Homo sapiens: one gene and its partners. The protein of the gene in region 4 interacts with the protein of the main gene of each other region in a pairwise test. Each region holds a gene or a part of one and is shown on either strand. Other genes may lie near its edges.

Region 1 (3,500 bases), on a different chromosome or scaffold from region 4:
CTCCTTCTCCAGGACTTCACTCCGGTCACTGTCTCGTCTCTGGAGCATCACTTATGCTCTTTAGTCGATAATTTCCAACAGCATATTAACATTCTGCTACATCACCCTCCTTAGAAAAGCCTCCCTCGACTCCACATTTCCCTCTAGCTTCAGCTCATGCTCTCTCCTCCCCTAGGCAATTTCCACTATAGAGCTGTCAATACTGGCTCCAACTCCTCCCCCATTCCCTCCCGAACCCACTCTAGGGTGGTCCTGTCACACCCTTAAATGACTCAGTCAAGGCTATAAGTGACTGTTGCATGTACATGCCATGGTCAATTCCCGCTTGACATCCAGAAGCATCTGATGTGGTATTTGAAACACCCGTCCGTGGCTGGCAGGATGCCACATTCCCAGCTTACACTCCTCCTCCAGTCTCCCCTACCAATTCCCCCTGACACCCTTGGCCTCTAATGTGGGAGGCCTGGCACCCAGCCCTTTGAGCTTCCCTTCTTCTCCATCTGCCCTCACCTCCAGGGTGATTTCATCCAGTCCCACAGCTCTATACACATGCTGATGATGCCAACATCTGCATCTCCAGGCAAGTCCTCTCCCTGAACTCCAGGCTTGAATGGAAAACTTACTTGACACCTTGGGTGTCTAGAAGGACACCCAGATGCTATTGGTCTGAACACGTCAAAAGCCGAATACCAGCTGTACGATCCCATTTCCGAACATCTAAACCTGCCCTGAGTCTCCCTCATCTTGCTAAATGGCAACTCTATCCTTTTTTTTTTTTTTAATGGAGATGGAATCTCACTCTGTCGCTCAGGCTGGAGTGAAATGGCACAATCTCGGCTCCCTGCAACCTCCGCCTCCTGGGTTCAAGCAATTCTCCTACCTCAGCCTCCCGAGTAGCTGGGACTACAGGCGCACGCCGCTACGCCCGGCTGATTTTTTGCATTTTTTAGTAGAGACAAGGTTTCATCATGTTGCCCAGGCTGGTCTCAAACTCCTCAGCTCAGGCAATCCACCTGCCTTGGCCTCCCAAAGTGCTAGGATTACAGGCAACTCCATCCTTCTTACTACTCAGGTACAAAACTTTGGAGGCATCCTTGACTCCTTTTTCCTTTATCCCTCATGCCCATCAGGAACTCTTCTCAGCTCTACCTTCAAAATACATCCAGAAGCCAGTCACTTCCCACCACTTCCACTGCCACTCTGGGCCGTGCCCCACCATCTTTTGCCTGGATTGATCACTGCAACTGCCTCCTAATGGGCCTCTCTGATTCTGTCCTTTCCCCTGCCCAGTCTTGTCCACAGAGCAGCTGGAGAGCTTTTAAGTCAGATCATGCCTCACCTTCTTCAGGGCCCTACAATGGCTTCTCATCTCATGCAGAGTAACGGCCCGAGTCCCTACAATGCCCCTGCAAGCCCTGCATGATATGGCCCTGTGACCTCTCTTTATTTATTATTATTTTTTGAAATGGAGTCTCACTCTGTTACCCAGGCTGGAGTACAATGGCGCAATTTCAGCTCACTGCAACCTCCACCTCCCAGGTTCAAGAGATTCTCGTGCCTCAGCCTCCCGAGTAGCTGGGATTACAGGCGTGTGCCACCACACCCAGCTAATTTTTGTATTTTTGGTAGAGACAGGGTTTCACCATGTTGGCCAGGCTGGTCTTGAACTCCTGACCTCAGGTGATCCACCCGCCTCGGCCTCCCAAAGTGCTGGGATTACAGGTATGAGCTACTGCACCCGGCCTCTCTCACTTCATTTCTAAGCATGCTCCTCTGCTCCAGCCACCCTAACCTTCTTACTGTATCTTGAACTTGCCAAGCACATTCTAGCCTTAGGAATTTGCATTTGCTGTTCTCTCTGCTTGTAACACTTCCTCCCCAGACATCCACATGGCTGGCTCCCTCACTGTCTTCAGGTCTTTGCTAAAATATTACCTCATCAAAGAGTTTTTCCCTGACCTCCATATTTAAAATAGGACCCTCACTGCCCTACCCTAGCCCCTCCCCATTACCATCTTTATCCTGCCTTGTTTTGGTCCATATGACTTAACAGCATCTGATATACCATATACAGATGCTCCCTGACCTACACTGGGGTTACGTCCCAATAAACCCATTGCAAGTTGAAAATATTGTAAGTCGGCCAGGTGCGGTGGCTCATGCCTGTAATCCTAGCACTTTGGGAGGCCGAGGCGGGCAGATCACTTGAGGTCAGGAGTTCAAGACCAGCCTGGCCAACATAATGAAACCCCATCTCTACTAAAAATACAAAACTTAGCTGGGCGTGGTGGCACGCACCTGTACACCCAGCTACTCAAGAGGCTGAGGTAGGAGAATCACTTGAATCCAGGAGGTGGAGGTTGCAGTGAGTCAAGATCATGCCACTGCACTCCAGCCTGGGCGACAGAGTGAGACTCTGTCTCAAAAAAGAAAAAGAAAATATCGTTAAGTGAAAAATGCATGTAATACCCATCATGAAGTTAAAAATTGCAAGCTGAACCATTGTTAATTGGGGACTATTTATATTTTATATACTTATTGTCTATTTCTTTACTAGAATGTTCTGAGGGCACAGATTGTTCACTACTGTACCCTTAGCAACTAGACTAGTAGGTGATTACTAAATATTTTGTGAATGCATGAATGAACAAATGAATGAGAATAAATCTCATTTGTTCACCCCAACAGCCCTGTGAGTGGGTACTATTATCATCATCCCCATTTTACAGAAGAAGCAACTAAATAGGGCCCAAATATGACATAGCCCAGGTGTGGCAGAACCTGTGCTCCAACCTAGCTCTGCTTCTCCCAAAGCCTCATGCACAGGTCATCATCGGACACGGGGGGCTACCATTTCAACAAGTACCTACCACAAGCCAGGCTCCGTGCTATCATCTTTAACCTGCACACACACCCTGTGAGATAAGTGCCCTCACAACATTTTATAAAGTAGAAAACAGGAGTCAAAAAGATTAAGAAACCTTCTCAAAGTCACACAGCCAGTAAGGTCTGAAACTGGTATCTGAATGCAGGCAGTCTGGCTCCTCGGCCTGTGCTCTTAGCCACTGTGCCAAACTGCTGCCCTGAGATGAAGGCCTGCTCTGGCCAAATGGTTGCCCAAGACAAATGAGCAGCAGGCAGAAGAGGACCACTCAAGCTCACCAAGAAGGTGGCCAGCATCTAAATCTCCCCAGCTAGTGCAGATCACTCACCGTGCACATGGGACTGCTGGAAGCTCTTCCCAGGGGCAAAGTGGAAGTTTCCGGCCACCTGTAAGGAACATTCTCTCTCATTCACTGGCTGTGTCCTCCTTTTGCCTACTCAGGGCCTGACTGGGCCCTCGGTTCCCAGTGGAGCTTGCCCAGCCCAGCTGGCCCTATCTTGTCTTGATCCCTCCTGATACCTTATTGACTTCCAAGAAGCCATACACCTGGCAGCCTTCATTCTTCTGCTCCTGCATCTTCTGGCTGAAGCCCTCTCGCCGGCACTGCTCAATAGTA
Region 2 (3,500 bases), on a different chromosome or scaffold from region 4:
TGCATACTTTAATAAATTAAGGGTTCTCTTTTCAACAAATGGTGCTGGAAACGAGGTATCTGTATGAGGAAAAATGGAAAAAACGTGACTACTACCTCATACCATCTAGAAATAGCAATTCCAAATAGCATATATCTTAAAACTATAAAACTTCTTGAAGAAAATGCAGGTGAAAATCTTTGCTGCCTGGGCTAGGTGAAAAATTTTAAGACAGGACACAAAAAGCACTGACTAGAGAAAAAAAATGGTAACAGAATTAAAACATTTGGTTCTAGACTGCGCATGGTGGCTCACGCCTGTCATCTCAGCGCTTTGGGAGACCAACGAGGGTGGATCACCTGACGTCAGGTCGAGACCGGCCTGGCCAACATGGTGAAACCCCGTCTTTACTAAAAATACAAAAAATTAGCCGGCCATGGTGGTGGGAGCCTGTAATCCGAGCTACTTGGGAGGCTGAGAGAGGATAATCGCTTGAATCTGGGAGGTAGAGGTTGCAGTGAGCTGAGATCAGGCCATTGCATTCCAGCCTGGGCAACGAGAGCAAACAATGTCTCAAAAAAAAAAAAGAAAAAGAAAAGAAACCCCCCACCCCCACCAAAAAAAACAACATTTGGTTCTTCAAATGGTACTGTCTAGGAAACAGAAAGGCAAGGCACAGGATAGGAATATCGTGTTGGCAAGTACACCTGATAAAGGACTTATACCCAGAACAAACAACAGGCTCTTACAACTCAGGAATAACACAAACACTTAAACAAATGGGCAAAAAATCTGAATGTTCATTTCACAAAACAAGAAATACAAGTGGCAAATAAGTACAACAAAAAGATGAGCAGCATCGTTACTCAGCAGGGAAGTGCAAATTAACATCACAATAAAATACCACCCTGTAGTGGCCAGGATAAAACTCAAAGGCCAACCCTTGGCGAGGCTGTGGGACAACCTTGCTGGGGTGTCAAGGGGGACAGCCACTCTGGAAGAGATTGGTGCTTACCACAGAACCCAGCAGTTCCAATCCCAGGTATGCACCCAAGAGGAAAAAAAACATGTGTCCACACAAAGTTAGGTCTACACATGCTTACAGCTTTATTCCTAATAGCCCGGAACTGGAAACAAATAAAATAAACATCCATCAACAGAAAGGATAAACAAAACTGACAAGCTCACTGGTGGACCACCACACAGCAACAAGCAGACGTGGCACATGCAGCAGAACTGCTGAATCTTGAGAGCGTTTCAGTGAGGAAAGGAGACCGGAAACAAATGAGTTGTGTGCTGTGACTCCACTGATGATAATGATGGGCACTAGGACACTCAGAGCTGCTCGGCTGACGATGATGGGCACTAGGACACTCAGAGCTGCTCGGCTGACGATGACGGGCACTAGGACACGCAGAGCTGCTCGGCTGACGATGATGGGCACTAGGACACGCAGAGCTGCTCGGCTGACGATGATGGGCACTAGGACACTCAGAGCTGCTCGGCTGATGATAATGGGCACTAGGACACTCAGCTGCCCGGCTGATGATAATGGGCACTAGGACACACAGAGCTGCTCGGCTGATGATAATGGGCACTAGGACACTCAGAGCTGCTCGGCTGATGATAATGGGCACTAGGACACTCAGAGCTGCCCGGCTGATGATGAGGGGCACTAGGACACTCAGAGCTGCCCGGCTGATGATGATGGGCACTAGGACACTCAGAACTGCCCGGCTGATGATGAGGGGCACTAGGACACTCAGAGCTGCTCGGCTGATGATAATGGGCACTAGGACACGCAGAGCTGCTCGGCTGATGATAATGGGCACTAGGACACTCAGAGCTGCTCGGCTGATGATAATGGGCACTAGGACACACAGAGCTGCTCGGCTGATGATGGGCACTAGGACACTCAGAACTGCCCGGCTGATGATGAGGGGCACTAGGACACTCAGAGCTGCTCGGCTGATGATGATGGGCACTAGGACACGCAGAGCTGCCCGGCTGACGATGATGGGCACTAGGACACTCAGAGCTGCTCGGCTGATGATGATGGGCACTAGGACACACAGAACTGCTTGGCTGATGATCATGGGCACTAGGACACTCAGAACTGCCCGGCTGATGATGAGGGGCACTAGGACACTCAGAGCTGCTCGGCTGATGATAATGGGCACTAGGACACGCAGAGCTGCCCGGCTGACGATAATGGGCACTAGGACACACAGAACTGCCCGGCTGACGATGATGGGCACTAGGACACACAGAACTGCCCGGCTGACGATGATGGGCACTAGGACACACAGAGCTGCTCGGCTGACGATGATGGGCACTAGGACACTCAGAGCTGCTCGGCTGACAATAATGGGCACTAGGACACACAGAACTGCCCGGCTGACGATGATGGGCACTAGGACACTCAGAGCTGCTCGGCTGATGATGATGGGCACTAGGACAGACAGAACTGCCAGGCTGACGATGATGGGCACTAGGACACTCAGAACTGCCCGGCTGACGATGATGGGCACTAGGACACTCAGAGCTGCTCGGCTGATGATGATGGGCACTAGGACACTCAGAACTGCTCGGCTGATGATCATGGGCACTAGGACACTCAGAGCTGCTCGGTCTACAGTGGCAGAAACCAGGCCGGGGGCTTGAGAGGGCAGCGGGGGTTGCCTGTGGAGCACGGGGACTTTCTAGGGTGCTGGGACTGTTCTCAGTCTTGACTGGCGCAGCGTTACAAGATTATATATGCTTGTCCAAATGTATCAAACTGCACACTTGAAGTGTATGCATTTATTCCATATAAAGTATACCTCAATAGAGGTGATTTTTAAAAAGTAGAAGCCATGATAATGAAGACAGTGTGGTATTGGCACAGGGACTGACAAACAGACCACCTGGAACCAGAGAGAGGGTGAGAAGCAGACCCCTGATGAAGGATACTGAGGGGCTCAGGGGGCAGTTGCATGGGTGAACAGGGGGGCCGGGCTCTTCATGCAGGGTGCAGGGTAGCTGGCCCTCATCTGAGAACAAGGAGAGGGGACAGCACTTCACACTATACACACAACTCAGCCCCAGGTGGATTAATGACCTAAAGGAAAGATTTTAGGTTGAACTGTGAAGCTTCCAGAAAAATTCAGAATACATATTTTGACCTGTTAGTGAGGAAAGACTGCTTAACTAAGACATTAAAAACAGAATCCATAAAGGAAGAGATTGGCAAACTGAACCACATAAAATCCAGAACCTCTGTTCTTCAAAAACAATTTGTAAAACTCAAAAGATAATCACAGACCGAAAAAGCTATTTGCAACACATTTAGCTAACAGAGCTTTATTCAAATCATATAAAGAACTCTGACATGTCAGCCAGAAAAGGCACAGTGGAAATGGTCACCAGACCTGAACAGGCACCTCGCTGGAGGATGACCCAGCAACGACGTGAAAAGATGCTCAAGCTCGCAGGTCACCGGTGGCAGCCCAGGCTGCAAAGCTAGGTCCAGAGCCACCCAC
Region 3 (3,500 bases), on a different chromosome or scaffold from region 4:
CTGGTGCATCTCTCCTCTCTGCCGCCACACCACACATTGCCACTGCCCAGATCTCAGCGCACTCCCTCTTCCCCAGCCAGACCACAAAGGAAGCACACGCCAGCACGGCAGGTCAGAGGCTGTTTCTTTATACAAAGGCAGACAACATGGACACCTCAGCATGCTGCTGCAGTTCATGGGGGCCCATCCCACCGCTTCTGGGGAGAGGAATCGGGGTGGGGGCGCCCGCAGCAGGGGAGAGACACTACACAGGCCTGGGACCGCCAAGCACACCAGCTGCGAGCTCCTGAAGGGCAGACACATGGACACACGGACACTGAAACCACGAGCACGGCACAGCCACAGGGAGGAATGGTGGAGCTGGGGACAGACATCGGCAGCTACTGCCAACTGCTGCCCTCTTCTGCCACGAGTTCCTTGGCGAGGAGCCTTGTCCGTGTTACTAAAGAGCCACGTGACTTTATCTGATGGCAGAACGTCTCGCTTTCTGCATCTGTAAGCTGGGCCAGTACACCGTACTCCACAGGGCTGCCGTGAGTACAGATGAGACTGAAACAGGGGCATTGATCAAAGTACCCAACACAGAGCCTGGCACATAGAGGTGTTCAATAAGTAACTTTTGTCAGGAGACTCTTAGGGAGGACCTTCAGAAGGCCAAGTGAGATGACTTCCCTAGAAATTCTCTCAGGGCATGGGGACCCTGGAGGACTCCTTGGAGCCTGCAGCCCCTGGTGTGCCCAAGGCCCCAGAATACACCGTGCCAGGGCTGTTCACAGGCGTGGGGGGCTGGATGCCCAGGGAGGTGCCCGCAGAAGCTGGGTAGACACTGGAGGAGGTGGGGTTTGGACCAAAGTGGTTCTGCACATAGCACAGGCCGGAGGCAGGCTGGTACGGAGGCAAGGTGGGCATGTGCCCGGGGGTGCAGGAGGGCCAGGAGGCCAGCTTCTGACCACTGGCGTGCTGCGTCTGGGACACAGGGTGGCTTGGGGACAGGTGAGGGTGGCAGCTCTGTGTGGGGTAGGAGCCAGGCACCGGGTTCAGTCTGGAATGGAACAAGAGAGAAAATGGTCCTTCAGCGAGTCTTGGCAAGGTCATGGCATCTTGTGCTTGAGGTTGCCCCCGCTTTCTAGTACAACATGCCTTGGATGTTTTCTGTGACTTGCTCTAAGTACCAAGTGGGAGAAAGGTTAACCTCAACCAATCAGACCACAGATGCCCAGGGAGGGTGGGGCCAGTTGCAGTCCTGCAGCAAGGGAGTTGTATGAAAGGACACTGGACCTGCCACTGAGACCACCGGAGGGGTGACCTGCTCACAGCAGCTTCTAAACCAGATGGAGCGTTGGGACCAGGTCACAGCTGCCAGTGCCTGTGTGGCTGGCTCGACAATTCTGCCCAAAGAGAACGGATTCAGGCTGGGCATGGTGGCTCACACCTGCAATCCCAGCACTTTGGGAGGCCAAGGCGGGTGGATCATCTGAGGTCAGGAGTTCGAGACTAGCCTGGCCAACATGATGAAACCCGGTCTCTACTAAAAATTAAAAAAAAAAAATTAGCCAGGTGTGGTGGCAGGCGCCTGTAGTCCCAGCTACTCAGAAGGCTGAGGCAGGAGAATCGCTTGAACCTGGGAGGCAGAGGTTGCAGTGAGCCAAGATTGTGCCACTGCACTCCAGCCTGGGTGACAGAGCAAGACTCTGTCTCAAAAAAAAAAATTGTTTTTTTTTTTTTTTAATTAGCCAGGTCTGGTGGCATATGCTTCTAGTCCCAGGTACTTAAGAGGCTGAGGTAGGAGGACTGCTTAAACCCAGAAGTTTGAGGCTGCAGTGAGTTATGACTGTGCCACTGCACTCCAGCCTAGGCAACAGAGCAAGACCATGTGTAAAAAAAAAAAAAAAAAAAAAATTATCTATCAACAAGAGCCTCTGAGGAGACAAGCTGTCCAAACGGCCATCTTGCTGACAAAATAAACATGCGTGTCATGACATGGCCCTGGACCCACTGTCAGGCTGCCTGAAACACAATATTCTGAGTGTCTGCAGCAGGCACCAGACCTGAGGGACTGGACTCCATGTCACGTGGGGAACACAGAAGGAACACCATCTTCCTCTTAAACCCTAAGATCTGCCTGTCACAGTGAGGCAGGATCAGACCTGGCACTGGGTGTGGCAGTGTCTGTGAGGCTGATTGCAATTCAGCATGGAAGAACTCTTTTTTTTTTTTTTTGAGACGGAGTCTCGCTCTTTTGCCCAGGCTGGAGTGCAGTGGCGCGATCTCGGCTCACTGCAAGCTCCACCTCCCAGGTTCACACCATTCTCCTGGCTCAGCCTCCCGAGTAGCTGGGACTACAGGTGCCCACCACCGCACATGGCCAATTTTTTGTATTTTTAGTAGAGATGGGGTTTCACCGTGTTAGCCAGGATGGTCTCGATCTCCTGATCTCGTGATCCACCCGCATCAGCCTCCCAAAGTGCTGGGATTACAGGTGTGAGCCACCGCGCCCGGCCCTTCAGCATGGAAGAACTTTCTCATCAGGGCCAGTCTTGGAGAGTGAGCTCTTGTATGTGAGATACAGCTGGAGACCACCATCAGCTATTACAGAGGGGATTCCTTGGTGACAGACAGTTCTCCAGATTCAATGAGAACAACTAAAACCCACAAAACACCTAGTCCTAAATGTACAGTCTCCCCCACATTGAGACCCCAGGAATTACTTGCCTGAAGCAATAATGCGGTGAGTCCGCATTTCTGTTTTCCCAGCAGCCCTCCTGGCCTTTTAGAAAAATAGTCCAAGGGCTCTGAGCTGTTGACAGCTGGGAGCACCTCTTGGAAGAAGCTCTAAGGGCAGCTTCCTATTCAACAAAAACCCCACATCCAGGCCAGCGTGCAGGGGAAAATTTACTCCACAGCTGGTGGCGGGCCAAAAAGGGCCAAGGACCAAGCACCTTGCCTTCTGATACACTTTGGATGTTTCCTCTGCTCCAAATCATGTGCTGAAATGGATCTTTAGCCGGGTATAGTGGCACGCGCCTATAATTCCAAGTACTTGGGAGGCTGAGACAGGAGAATCACTTGAACCCAGGAGGTGGAGGTTGCAGTGAGCTGAGATCACGCCACTGCACTCCAGCCTGGGCCACAGAGTGAGACTCCATTTCAAAAAAAAAGAAACGTGATTCCCAGTGTTCCAGCACTAGAGGTGGAGCTCAGTGGGAGGCGTCTGGGTCACGGGGGCAGACCTTGCGTGAGTGGCTTGGCTTCTTCCCCGTAGTAATGAGTTCTCCCTCTGAGTTTAGGTAAGAGCTGGGTGTTTAAGAGCCCAGCACCTCCCTCCCTCTCTCAATGTGTGGTGCCGCCTCCCCTTGCCCTATGATTGGAAGCTGCCTGAGGCCGGTGCCATGATCCTAGTGTAGCCTACGAAGCCATGAGCCAAATAAACCTCTTTTCTTATAAATGACCCAGGCTCAGGTATTTCTTTATAGCAATACAAAATGGATGAACACGCCTTT
Region 4 (3,500 bases):
CCAGATCTGCAGAAGTTCCCCCCCTTACCTGGCTGAAGAGGTGGGAGAGCACCGTGTCGGGTAAAGTGCTAGTTAGGCCGGAGAGCTGCAGGGAGCAGGGCGCCAGCGTGAGTGCCGCCCCTCACCCCACCCTAGGTATACCCACCCCACCCCCGGTCACCACACACACCTTGGTGGCAGCCCAGTCTATCCAGCCTTTGCCATTGGGGTCGATGTTCACCAGCACCAGCCCCTCCACCAGGTCGGGGAAGATGAGCTGCAGTAAGAGGGGAAACAGGGCCGGGCGGGGCCAGGATGGGTGCAGATGGCAGAAACACTCTGTAAAGTCTTCAAGGTGCTGCTGATCAGCCACCCGGCTACAGCCGGGTCTGTGCATGCACACCCATGTCCAGATGCCCCTGCCTGTCCTCCTCTCACTGAACCCTTCACAGTTCTTGGATTTATTTAGAATCTCTATCATTGTTTCCACCCCTACACACACACAGACACACACACACACACACACACACGCTCTTTCAACAGAATCAGCTCTTAATATATTTTTGAAGTGCAAAATTGAGTATTAAACATCTTAAAATCTTAAGCATGTTGTTTTTTTGCTTTTATAGAGAATGAAGCCCTGGCCAGGCGCCGTGGCTCACGCCTGTAATCCCAGCACTTTGGGAGGCCAAGGCGGGCTGATCACCTGAGGTCAGGCATACGAGACCAGCCTAGCCAACATGGTGAAGCCCTGTCTCTAATAAAAATACAAAAATTAGCCAGGCGTGGTGGCATGCACCTGTAGTCTCAGCTACTTAGGAGGCTGAGGCAGGAGAATTGCTTGAACCAGGGAGGTGGAGGTTGCAGTGGGCCGAGATCATGCCACTGCACTCCAGCCTGGACGACAGAGCAAGACTCCATCTCAAAAAAAAAAAAAAAAAAAAAAAAAAGAAAATGAAGCCCTCATGATATAAATTAAGAAAAAAACAACCTTTTCAAAGTCTGTTTTGCCGTAGGCATTGCAAAAGAGGTATTTTCTTTTCAACTGTTAGACTGTGCTTAAAGAAAAACAGCATAACCACATCAAGCTTGTCTAGGGTGGCAGGGAATGGCCTCCAGTTAACAAAATGATTAAGTGCTGACATTGCAACTGGAGTTGAAAATTCTTGGTCATTTCTTTTGAAGTAGTAAATGTCTTCGATCGTGAAAAATTAGTCTTTTGGGTTTTTGTTTTTTTTTTTTTTGCTTGTTTTTAGAGATGAAAAGCTTGTGAATTCCTACCCAACAATGATTTTTTTTATTTTTTTATTTTTTTGAGACAGAGTCTCGCTCTGTTGCCCAGGCTGGAGTGCAGTGGCGCGATCTCAGCTCACTGCAAGCTCCGCCTCCCGGGTTCACGCCTTTCTCCTGCCTCAGCCTCCCGAGTAGCTGGGACTACAGGCGCCCGCCACTACGCCCGGCTAATTTTTTGTATTTTTAGTAGAGACTGGGTTTCACCGTGTTAGCCAGGATGGTCTTGATCTCCTGACCTCGTGATCTGCCCACCTTGGCCTCCCAAAGTGCTGGGATTACAGGTGTGAGCCACCGACAATGATGTTTTTGAAATGTGCCTTCTTTAAACCTCCCAACCATAATAAAATTTTTTGCTAAAAAAATTATTCATGTTGAAATACCATGGCAATTAGTGAAGGACGATCCTTATTTAGTGGCTAGAGCAGTTAGTTGTATAGTTTGTTGCTACTAGAAATTCTGGCTTTGGATAATAGTTTAAGCAAGTTATAGTTTCTAGTCTCTTGAGAAAACTATATGGAGAAAGGAACCTCTTTTTTAAAAAAGTTAATTTCCCTGGAGGAAAAAAGAAAAAAGAGGTTTTCTACATAAAGAGGAGGTGGGAGGAGGAGAAGCGAGAGCAGGGACACTTCCTCAAGGCTGAAGGGTTCCCCCCAGTCCCCACCACTGGGACATCCCTGGCTTGCCCTGGTGTTTGGGGTAATGGGGGCATGGGGAGACTCACTGCAAACTTGGCCAGCACATAGGCTCCGGCGCCCACTCCGATGCCAATCACATACTTGAACCTGGTGCAGAGCAGGCTGGTCACTCTAGGGCTAGGGGTGCCATTTCCCATACATGTCATCCAGAGCAGGCCCTGCCCATAGCCTGAAGCCCTCAGCTGGAGCCAGGTGGCTCTGCAGTTGGGGTAGGCACCCCTGGGCCCTAGCGCAGGGGCTGTGCGGGGACTCACCCGAAATGCTGCACCACGCTGGGGAGCATGGCAGCCAGCTGCTCCATGGAGGGGAACTGGTACCTGCAGGCAGAGCAGGAGGTCAGGGCCCAGGTGTGGCCTCAGGTGCAGAGCTGGAGACAGGCAGAGGGGGCTCAGGGTACCTACCCCTGAGGAAACTGCGACGCCCCCACCTGTTGTCCAGGGGCATCCACGTGACACACCACAAAGTGCTTGGTGATCTCCTGCATGTCCTCGAAGTTGAAGAAGGTGTTGAAGCATAGTTTGTCTGCAAAGACACACTTCCACTATGGCTGAGCAGAGGGGCCGGGGGACTGGAAGGAAGGCCGGGCCCCCAGAGGGCAGGCAAGGCAGAAGTGTAAGCCTCGGGTCCGTCGGGGAAATGGAGGCCCGGAGGGCGAAGGCAACAGAGGTGAGTGTGAGTGGGGCTGACAGGGCCCTGTGGGGAGGGTGGGGGGCCTCACCGCTCTGGCTGATGGGAGGCAGAGGAGGGCTGACTGAGGCTGGGCTGCACTTACGGTTGAGGCCCACATCATGGTAGGTGAGGATGGCTGGGCGGTTCCCCTTGGGGGAGCCCCGGATCACTACATGCAGAAGGCCGTAGGGTGTCTCGATGTCATGTTCCTGAAGGGGAGAGACCGTGCTGGACACTCTGGGCAGCCTCCGCTCTTGGCTCCTCTGGGGAATGAGGTGACGCAGCCTGGTACCTGTTAGGCCTGTGGTAGAGCCCCTACTTGGGGCATCCTGTTCTCATCACCCCAAGAAGCCCCCAGAGAGGACTGAATGGATGGAACACCCCTTCTCAGGGCTGTTCAGTACAGAGACAATGTGAACTGATCTGCATGGGGAAGGTCTGGTCCTCTCTGCAAACCAGCCACTGGTTTGTGCTGTCACTGTCCTCCGCCCTTGAGGGTCCAGGGAGGCTGTTTTTCTCCATCTTGCAGCAGCCCCTCCTGGACAGCTCTGCCTCCCCAGCCCAAGTCCCTCTCACACTCAGAACTCTCAGGCACTTCCTGCTGCTGCAGGGGAACGGCCTCAGTGGTCCTGCCTGGAATCCTCAGAAAACACCCCGTGCCAGCCAAGCCTAGCCCCGACCCCGGCACTGCCCCTGGCTCCCACTCTAAGGCTCTTGCGCATGTGGTTCCTTCCACCTTGAACGCCCTTCTGTGTGAGCCCAGCATCCTCAAGGGCTCCCTTCAGGCAGGCCCGGGTCAGACCCCCCTCCCCATCCCCTCTAGAGGCCTTCTGCAGAGCCTGCTCTGGGATCCTCTTGAGTTCA

What was found.
Region 1: the proteins of NDRG4 (region 4) and ERGIC3 interact in binary tests that used the Homo sapiens proteins (3 or more experiments, as listed by UniProt).
Region 2: the proteins of NDRG4 (region 4) and THAP4 interact in binary tests that used the Homo sapiens proteins (3 or more experiments, as listed by UniProt).
Region 3: the proteins of NDRG4 (region 4) and RHBDD2 interact in binary tests that used the Homo sapiens proteins (3 or more experiments, as listed by UniProt).

Annotation. Positions count from the first base shown.
Region 1 is NC_000020.11:35,548,578-35,552,077, reverse strand, and holds part of ERGIC3 (endoplasmic reticulum-Golgi intermediate compartment protein 3), read right to left. Parts: coding exon 3,404-3,500; intron 3,271-3,403; coding exon 3,213-3,270; intron 1-3,212. UniProt on the Homo sapiens protein: Possible role in transport between endoplasmic reticulum and Golgi. Positively regulates trafficking of the secretory proteins SERPINA1/alpha1-antitrypsin and HP/haptoglobin.
Region 2 is NC_000002.12:241,588,659-241,592,158, forward strand, and holds part of THAP4 (peroxynitrite isomerase THAP4), read right to left. Parts: intron 1-3,500. UniProt on the Homo sapiens protein: Heme-binding protein able to scavenge peroxynitrite and to protect free L-tyrosine against peroxynitrite-mediated nitration, by acting as a peroxynitrite isomerase that converts peroxynitrite to nitrate.
Region 3 is NC_000007.14:75,885,534-75,889,033, reverse strand, and holds the end of RHBDD2 (rhomboid domain-containing protein 2), read right to left. Parts: intron 1,043-3,500; coding exon 685-1,042; 3' UTR 108-684; downstream 1-107.
Region 4 is NC_000016.10:58,503,143-58,506,642, reverse strand, and holds part of NDRG4 (protein NDRG4), read right to left. Parts: intron 2,938-3,500; exon of another isoform or gene 2,900-2,937; coding exon of another isoform or gene 2,846-2,899; coding exon 2,740-2,845; intron 2,490-2,739; coding exon 2,369-2,489; intron 2,285-2,368; coding exon 2,222-2,284; intron 2,055-2,221; coding exon 1,994-2,054; intron 257-1,993; coding exon 170-256; intron 86-169; coding exon 29-85; intron 1-28. UniProt on the Homo sapiens protein: Contributes to the maintenance of intracerebral BDNF levels within the normal range, which is necessary for the preservation of spatial learning and the resistance to neuronal cell death caused by ischemic stress.